2 separate regions of the Homo sapiens genome follow, and region 1 is linked to region 2. Evidence: fine-mapped expression QTL. Tissue or cell type: left ventricle. Region 2 holds a variant in brackets; the other region holds the start of a gene. All regions are shown on one strand. Distances are between the middles of the regions.

Region 1 (5,000 bases), 24 kb before region 2:
GACAAGGCAATTTGCCTTAGATAAGGCTACTGATTAGAATATCTTCCTGATGTATAAAAGCAAGAGAAATGGCTGCCAGCCACCCTGTGCTGGAAGGCAGAAGCCTCAAGTTCTGGTTCTGACTTTGCCATTGAGTTGCTGTGTGACCTTAGGCAATCCCTCCTCATCTCTGGGCCTTAGTTTCTTTTGGGAATAAATAACGGAATTGAGTTGAGCCTATGTATTAGTCTACTTAGGCTGCCAGAAGAAAATATCACAGACTGGGTGGCTTAAACAACAGAAATCAATTTAAGATCGTGAGACAGCATTAATCTCACGGGGTTATTTTGAGAACTGAGATCCTGCATACAAAACTCTCGGCATAGTGTTTGCCACACAGTAAGCTCTCAGTAAATATTTGTCAATGAATGTATGAAGGAATAAAAGTGGAAAATGCAAATAAGTGAAACACTGACAAGATTACAGCCAGGAAATGGCTGTTGTAATTCTAATTAGATATATAGACTTCCAGTATTTTCCTATGCAAATAAAGACATATGTTACTACCAAAACGGGACCATATTATACCTATCTAGATTTTCAAAAATATTTCATTATTTTATTGAAATATAAGTCACATGTCATAAAGTTTACCTTTTTAAAGTGTACAATCTAGTGGTGTTTAGTATATTCCCAAAGTTGCACTAACATCATCACTATTTAATCCCAGGACATTTTTACCACCCCCAAGATAAAACTCATGCCCATTAGCAGTCACTCCTCATCCCCGTCTCTTTCCCCTTCCCCAGACCCTGTCAAACACTTTCTGTCTCCATGGATTTGACTATTTTGGAAATTACATATAAAAAGCATCATACGACATGTGGCCTTTTGTGGCTGGCTTCTTTCCTTTACCATGATGTTTTCCAGCTTCATCCACGTTGTAGCATGTTCTTCTTATGGCTGGATGATATGCCTCTGCACGCATACACCACACTTCATTTACACATTCATCAGGTCATGGACATGCGGGTTGTGCCCACTTTTTGACTAGGATGAATGACACTGCTCTTTGTGTACAAGCTTTTGTGTGGACATGCTTTCAGTTCTCTTCGGTAGACACCTAGGAGGGGAATTGCTGGGTCATATGGAAACTCTGTGTTGAACTTTTTGAGGAACTGCCTACACCGCACAACAGTTTATAACCTATTATTTTCTCCTTTCACAACGCATCCTGTCTTCATTGTTAATAAATAGCTGTGCACATCACTATTTTGAGTGAATACATCGTATTTCCTTAGCCAGCGGTACCACAGTGTGTTTAGTGAATTCCCTATTGTTGGACATTTAATAATCCCATGAAAGAGGCTTTGAGTGACTTCCTTGTGTCCCCAGCAGCTTGTAAATGACAGTTTTCCAGGTGTGCCCAGAGCACTCTGTATCCCCTTAATTTGGTGATTTCACATTGCCTTGACATCACCCCTACTGCTCCTCCACCCCATCTGTCTTGTCTACAATGGTGAGCCCCTTGAGAAGCTGAACCATGTCTTGAATTGGTCTTTGTATCCATTATACATGGCCAGGTGCCAAGCATTTTGGTAAATGTTCACAAAATGGATGGGTACTTGGATGGATGGATGATAACAGCCAGGGACTATGGGGGGACGGAGTTCATTTTTACATTCTGTCCAAAAATCCCTGCTTTGGAAAGTAGTGAGTTCTCTGACACCGATGGTGTGTGACAGGAGGCTGGACCAGTTGGCAGGATATTGTGAAGCTAATTCAGGCCTCAGAAAGGGGACTCGATGAAATTTAAGATCGCTTCCAAGCTTGAGAGCCTGGAAAGCTATGAAAACACAAGCCCTGGGAGCTGAGATATGTCCTAACTTACCCAGCTGAGCTGTGAGGTGTGAGTGGCTCTAACATTTTCCAGTTGTTTCTGAGGACCTCAGATCAAAGCTTCCCTTTGCCTAAAAGCATCTGCCTGCTGGTGTGGGCCCTTGGGGGCCGTCACAGTGCACTGAGGTTAGAGTCCTGCAAGGGTGAACCCTTATGTAACAAGTAGTTGGGCAAGTTTACAGCTCTCTGTAATCTGACAGTAGAGTCCAGACTGGTTTGATGAAAGAGGGTAAACTGTGGGTGGGCGTGGCCTGAGGCCCCACTAGAAGCCCAGGGAGATCTGAGGAAAGGGAGGGCTTTTCTGATCTCTCCCAATTAGAGGATTAGGCAATTGGCAGCGCAGGGCGGTAACTCTGGGCGGGGCTGGGCTCCAGGGCTGGACAGCACAGTCCCTCTGAACTGCACAGAGACCTCGCAGGCCCCGAGAACTGTCGCCCTTCCACGATGTGGCTCCGTGCCTTTATCCTGGCCACTCTCTCTGCTTCCGCGGCTTGGGGTGAGTCCTTCTGAAATCAAAATGCGGGGCACTTTTTGAAATCCTTGTTCTGGGCCGAGGTGGGCGCAGATGCGTAGAAAGGCAAAGACACAACAGGTCCGGCTCTGCGGCGGGGCACGACTTCCATATTAGGACTTGGACTTGGAGCAGCTGAGCCCGGCCAGCCTGGCCCGCGCGGAGACGCAGGGAGGGTGAACATCCTGAGATCGCCCTGTACTGCTCGCCCAAATGCAGGCCGACAGCCGGCCCACCTCAGGCCGCACACACGAGAAATTTAGGCAGCTCAGTTTGCTGTCCCTTAATTAGTCCCCTTACGGCTGGATCACGGAGAGCGGCTCAACATAATATTAAGAGCATCGACTCTGGAGCCAGAGTGCGTGGGTTCGAGTCCCCGCTGGGCGCTTCCTCGCTGTGTGTCCTTAGGCAAGGGACTGCGCTATTCCGTGCTTGGGTTACCCCCTCTCTGAAACAGAGGTGGCAGTGCTGCCTACCTCACTGGGCTTTGGTGAGGAGGAAATGGGTGGCTGTTTCTAAAGCACTCTTGGCAGCGCCTGGTATGTAGAAAGCACGAAAAAGGGATGGATAAATAAAGGCGCTGTTTAAAAACGTAGTGTATGAATAGAAAATTTGAGCTGTGGTCAGGCCACTATATCAGGACCTCTTGCCATTAAAAAGACAGTTTCTTACTCATGTTCTCAACAGGAGGGGGACACCAGTGCGCGGGGCACAAGGGGAAGCAGCAGAGCCTGGGGAGGGGACAGGGCGGATCTGAGGCCAAGGGGCTTTTACTGTGGCTTCCAAGGATAGAAGAGGAAAGGCAGGGCAGGCAGGCTGAGGACTGGCAAGTTGGGATACTTCAGGGGCTCTGGGGCACAGGGGCTGTTCCTAATTGTTTTGTACCTAGCCCTGGCATGATTAGGGCAGGTGGGTAGTGGCCAGGGCATGGCAACCCGATCAAAGAGGCAGTTGGGGTGTGGGCTCTGGGGTGGCTGGACCCTGGGAGGGAGTTTCTCCAAGGTCAACAAGGCCTCAGATGCCAGAGCATCAGAATACAGAAAGCAAAACACATGGTACATAGAGGGGTGCAGCGAGGGGCCTCGAAATACCCCCATGCCATTTTATAGACAGAGAAACTGAGACTCACACAGGGAAATGTACTTGCCCAGGGTCAACCCGAAAATCACGCCTAGGTCTGTCTCTGGGTCCTGAATCCTGACAGCCCAGCCCCGTCTGCATCCTGTCTTCCTTCTGGCAGCCTGACACTGCGAGAGCTCTGGAACTGTGGGGAAGGGCAGAGAAGAGAGGAAGCCTATTTGGAACTGAATGTTCCTTTACCTCTGGTTACTCCTGGCAATGCCATCCATTTCCTTCCTTAGGAAGACCATACAGGCTGCCTCCACTTCCTCAGTTTCCTCCTCTGTAAAATGGGCATGTTGATGCCTACCCAGCAAGGCTTATTTGAAGATTAATTTAAAAAACTGGAATGCATGCCTGGCACATAGTAGGTGCCCACCATGTTCGTGCTTCATATAACATCAGCAGCAACTGGTCTTGTTCTCACACTTGTTTCTGCCTCCCCCCATTCACCCACTTTTTCACCCTTGGCAATCTGGCTGCCATCCACCTCATCCTGTTGAAGGGAATCCCTGAGCTGAGCATGACCAGCCCAGTGGTTTCTTCTCTGACTTGACTCTCCTCCACCTCCCTGAAGTCCTCAGCACTCTTAGCTGGTTCCTCGCCCTCTTGCTCCCTGGGCTTCAAAGACATGGGAACGTTCTCTCTCCCCTATTCTGATGGATCTTTGGTCTTGGCCGTAGTGGTCCCTGTGTTTGACCTTTGTTTTTTTTTCTCTTCCCTCTCACACTGGCATCTTCAATGAAGCCATACACATCCACCGTATGTACCCTCACAGTCCAGGAGAAGATTCTGCCCTGCTCCCTCACCAGGCTTCCTTCCAGCTTTGAAGTGCGCTCATCCTGTGGCATCATCTTGCCTGGATATCCCACTCACATCTCCACCGAGCCTGTGTAAACAGGGATCCAGCATTACAAGCCAGCTCTTTGGTCTTCTTTCCCTTCCATTTCCCCCACCTCTGGTCAGGGACCAAGTCTTTTCTTTTCCTTTCTTTTCTTTCCCTCCCTCCCTCACTCCCACTTGCCTGCCTGCCTGCCTGCCTGCCTGCCTTCCTTCCTTCCTTCCTTCCTTCCTTCCTTCCTTCCTTCCTTCCTTCTTTCCTTCCTTCCTTCTTTCCTTCCTTCCTTCCATCCTTCCATCTTTCCTTTCCTTCTTTCCTTCTTCTCTCTCTCTGGAGGAGCCAGGATTACAGGCACATGCTACCACACCCAGCTAATTTTTCTATTTTCAGTAGAGAGGGGGTTTCACCATGTTGGCCAGGCTGGTCTTGAACTCCTGACCTCAAATGATCTGCCTGCCTTGGCCTCCCAAAGTGCTGGGATTACAGGTGATCCACTGTGCCTGGTCTCCAAGTCTTTCAAAATACCTTTTAGACATCATCATATTTCTACATATTTTTTCTTTTTTTATTTAAAATTTTAAAATAATTAAGATGGGGGGGAGGATTTCAGGTGAAGACCGGAAATCCCATACAGTGCTGAAAAGGTGGAAA
Region 2 (5,000 bases):
ACTGTAGGGATCCCAGCCACAGACACACACACACACACGCGCGCACACACACACACTGCAAAACACTGCCACAGCTTCTCTGAAATTTTGTTTTTTGTTTTTTTTTTTTGTAAACTTTGCAATGCTTGAGTTTCTGGATATAAGCCCATTTGATTCATTGATTTCACCCATTTCAGTAAAGACTCATGCCCTTAAAAGCCCCCATAATTAGAGGACTTTCAGACTGCATTGGTTTGGTTGGTTGGTCAGTTTGTTTCTTATCATTAATTCCCAATGATTCATAAATGCTGAACTTTTTTTTTTTTTTAGCAGTTGATGAGCTATCCACTCTCCGAAGGGCAACTGGACCAGAAGACAGCCATGTCACTCCTGTGGAAGTCCTATCCCCTTGTTGTAAGAGTCTAGGAATCATGGGAATTGGCTGAGACCCAGAGAGGGACAAGGACTTGCCCAAATCATAGAGCAATTAAATGGCAGAATGAAGACTGGGGCCTCAGGGTTTCCCCCATCTTTCCACCTTTCCCACTTCATTTTCCACCCTAGCGGGGAGTTGCACAGGGCTTATGGGGTTCACCATTGAGGCAGGACTTTCTGGTGGGCTGGAGAAGCTGCATCGCTCACCCGGGGCTGGTGGTCACTTTTTGATCTATTTCAGTGCATTGCTAAGGAACTGATTCCAGAAGCCACTGAGAAATACTTAGGAGGAACAGACGACACTGTCAAAAAGAAAGACCTGTTCCTGGACTTGATAGCAGATGTGATGTTTGGTGTCCCATCTGTGATTGTGGCCCGGAACCACAGAGGTGAGTCCCAGAGGTCGAACGGGAGGGACACAAACCCCACGAGCTTCTGTATCTGACCCACCTACCTCCCAGCATAGACAGACATGGAAACAGCTGAGGGTCAGGCCTCAAAGGCTGATTCCATATGGCATGGGATGAGGTGCTGTCTTATTTTGGTTTATGCCAGCAGAAGACTGTGAGAAAAAAAAATCCAGAGGCAAGTGGTTTTTTTAAGGTGATGATCCCAGATAACAGCAGTAGGGAGGTGGGGAAGTGAGAGAGGAAAGAGATGGAATCCAATCCAAGATGCGTTGTCAAGGGAGTATCCACTGTGGACAACTGGAGCGGGGAAACTCAAGGAAACACCAAGAATACAGGGCTCAGGGGCATCCCATCTGAGTGGCAAGGGAGCCGGGTATTTATTCACCAGCTTCTACTTGTCATTGGTTGAAGGCTCTTGCAAGGAATTGTTTATTCCCTGTGACTTCGACCTGCTGCACACAAGGGCAGAGTAGTCTCTTGTGACCAGACAAAGGCCTCAGGCCTGGAGCTGCAGATGCTGGAGGTGGAAGTCAGGCTGGCATGCCCAGGAAGAGGGGATATAGGTGAGACCCTGGCAGCATCTGCTGCAAGGGCTCCATGCCTGGAGTTATTGTGGGACATAGGGCTGCTGTAGGACAAATATTGAAAGATGAGTCGTGGAAGGGTTTTAAGGTCTGAGCCAGCTGCAAACAAGTTTGTTAAGTATTGGAGCTGGATAAAAAGTGGGAGCCCTGCATGGGATCCAGAGGATTGTCCAGGACCAAGAAGGCCAGAGAGAGGAGCCAGGGCGGGTGTGGGAGAGGTGGTCTGTAGAATGGCAGTGTCTGAGGGTGGTTTTTATGCATCTCAGTGCGTGCAGTAGCATGCAAGCACAGGGCAAGGGCAGGGTCTATGCAGGACCTGCTACCACTGACCCAAGGCTGTGTGGGTGGGGCATGACGTTAGGGATGTGTGTGCTCACCTAGAGAGGAGTGTCTGTTCCTGCGTGCCAGCTAGAGGAGATTCACAGGATTCCTTTTCTTCCAGCTCTCATTCGCCTAGTCTGCAAGCTAGGAAATGTCCTCTCTCTAACCATGCTGGAAGGGTTTTTAAATTTAGAACTTCATAAGCATGATAAAAACTAGCTAACGCTTAACTAGCAGGTGCCCTGACACACCTTTGCACAGGAAGGGGCAGGTGCTCATAACCCTCATTTCTTCACAGGGTCCTGATAAAAACCTTTAACCAAGACCACTGGAGTTGAATCTGTTCTTTCTTAAACTTGCCCTTGCCCTATGCTCTGCGTCTGAACTATATATAGAGTTCCCATCTCCATTTTCTGATGGTTTGAGCAATACTGAACTTATGTTTTTCATCTGGTTTCCCATGACTTTAAGTTCAGGGCTTTTTTTTTTTTTTTTTTGCCAGGACTACACAGATTTTATCTACTTTCACTTATTGTTGTCTCACTCTTTTTGATAAAATAACATTTCTGAATATAAAATTAATATGTTAAATTATAGAAACTTTCAAAAATATGGAAACACAAAAAGAAGAAACTATGTATCACTCATTTCCACTACCTGGAGGCAAGTGCTATAAATTTTTTGTGTTTTCGTCTAAAGATTTTCCATGTCCTATATACTTTAAAAATCAATTTTATATTTTACTTTTGTTCATAGAACACTATGTTGTGAGGATTTTCTCAATGTTGATACAAACTCATCAAAGCATTCCTTATTCCATGAAATGGCTGTGTTAAATAGACTTTAATATTCATATCCTAT[T/G]AGATGTTTAGCCTGGCTACTCACATTCTGATGCTACAATAACATTGAGCTCAGCCTAATGTTCATAAGTCTCTAAACACATGTCTAATAATTTTCTTAGGATTATTTTTAGAAGTAAATAACTAGGTTGGACAATGCAAATGTTTTAGAACTTTGGGCAAATATTGTAAAATTGCATTCCACTGCATAAGAATGTGGATTTCTTAATTCTCTTTCTCATTTGGGATGCTAAGATTAAAAATTAGCATAACACTTCCAGTTTCATAAGCCTTCCCCACCAACAAGAAGCACATCAGCCTGTTTTAATCTGCATGTCCTCCATGACTAGCCCTCTCATTGTCTCTGCTTCTCTTATTATGTCTAATTGTCATTACCCAAATCTGTGCGCTACTTTCCTCTGAAGACTTGTGTTGTGATTGTAAGAATTGTATAAATATCAATGGCTTTAGCCAAAGAGTTTTACAAAGTACGTTTTGGGCAGCATGCTGCCTATAATAAGTTCTATCATTCACAAAAGCTCTTTCTTCTATGGTTGGCTCTGAGTTTCTTTGGAAAATGTTCGAGGGGCAAAGGCAAGGTCAAACCCTCCTTTTAGCAAGTTTTGTTTGACCTTGAAGCAGCCATTTAACAGGTGGATTACAGAGCCACAGAAGGATGGCATCTTCCCAGGTGCGCTTCCTGCTGAGCCGAGGGTGCAGTGCAGGAGGCTGACAAAGATGAGTGAATAGATTATTCTTCATTCTCACATTGAAATGACATGTGCGGGTGGGGCATGAGGTTAGGGATGCGTGAGCTCCCATTGTTAAATCCTTTTGTGAACGAATTTTTAATGATGTTAAGAAATGATGGCTGGAGGCGGTGGCTCTTGCCAACACTCTCAGCATTTTGGGAGGCTGAGGTGGGAGGATTATGAGAGCCTAGGATTTCAAGATCAGCCTGGGCAACATAGTGAGACCCTGTCTCTACAAAACAATTTAAAAGGGAAGTGATTACAGTGTACTACAAAATACCATATATAATATCATCCCCAGTTAAATACATAAAAGAGAGATATGCTAAAATAAAAAAGAAGCATTCTCTGAGTGGTAGAGTTATGAGTGATACTTTAAATTTGATTGTTAAAATTGATTTTTAAATTATATAGGATATGGAAAAATTTTAGAAGGAAATACAAAAAATGCATGGCCCTTGCCTCAGGTAGTGGAATTATGAGTGATATCTAGTTTTGCTTTATGCGTTTCCATATTTTTGTTTCTTCTAATTATTCCTAATTGTTTTTATTTTCCAAATTTCTTACTGTACCCAAAGGGGAGGACATTGTAAATTTTCTCCACCAGCCTGGCATTGCCCTGACTCTTTCCGTCTTAGTGTCACTTCTCAGTGGGTATCATGACCAGTGCAAAGTGCTGAGGCACAGGGCCAGGCGGCCCACGAGGTAGCCCTGAAGGGGCAGCGATCTGTGGCTCCAATGAGCCAATCATTGGGAAACTGGCATCTTCCTGGGGCTGGGACAGGAGAGCTTTGTTGGTGGGAGAGGAGGGCAGAGCCGAAGGAGAGAGGGCAGGGGAGAGGCAAGGTCACCCTTGCTCAGCGCCTTCTTTTCTCTGCCAGGGCTTTACTGCCTTAACACCCTAACACTCCCAGGCCAGGCAGGCAGCAAGACACATGGGGACAGTGAGCTATAAAGCAGTGAGTGCCGCAGGTTCCTGAGACACAAGAGGCAGATTGTTCCCTCTCTGCATATGTTTGTATTTAAATAGCCTCATGTTCAGACAAGCAACTTGGATTTGCTTCAGTCTTCTCAGGATGGGTGAGAAAAACACTGGAAATGCTCAAAACGAGGCAGAACAGAAGACACCTGTCATGGTGGAGATGGCATCCAAGTGAATGAACGCGAGTCTGTTATCAATGAATTATATCCGGTGTAACCAGATGTAGAGAGATTGTCTTGTGTGAGAATGCACCAGCAGGCAAAGGGGTTTACGAGGCAGAGTCAGGGTCCCTGCACCGGCAGCTGTTTTAAATGAATTGACCCAGGGTTTCCACATTCATTCATTAAACATTTGTTCATTGAACAAATATTTGGCTCTAATTCCGCTTCCACCTCAGACAGCTATGCAGCCCGGAGCGCATCACTGAGCTTTCCTGAGACTCTGTTTCTCTACTGTGCTGACAGCCAGAGGTTTGCTGCAGAGCTGAAGACCTTGGTAGCCTCCAGGTGTGTGTCTGGCAACATGAACTGTGCATGAATCCTTGTCTTCTCAGATGCTGGAGCACCCACCTACATGTATGAGTTTCAGTACCGTCCAAGCTTCTCATCAGACATGAAACCCAAGACGGTGATAGGAGACCACGGGGATGAGCTCTTCTCCGTCTTTGGGGCCCCATTTTTAAAAGGTAATGCTCCTTC

What was found. PIP is the estimated chance that this variant, and not a neighbour inherited with it, causes the effect.
Region 1: CES1 starts here. The variant in region 2 is fine-mapped to the expression of CES1 in left ventricle (GTEx, PIP 0.96).

Annotation. Positions count from the first base shown.
Region 1 is chr16:55,830,378-55,835,377 of GRCh38, reverse strand. CES1 (carboxylesterase 1) reads left to right here and starts at 2,282. Exons shown (of 14, transcript NM_001025195.2): 1 at 2,282-2,374. The coding sequence starts at 2,323.
Region 2 is chr16:55,806,320-55,811,319 of GRCh38, reverse strand. CES1 (carboxylesterase 1) reads left to right here. Exons shown (of 14, transcript NM_001025195.2): 10 at 310-393; 11 at 656-803; 12 at 4,856-4,987. Among named protein-coding and RNA genes, the nearest start is that of CES1, 24 kb to the left of the region's middle. The variant T/G (reference allele first, on the strand shown) is at 2,591.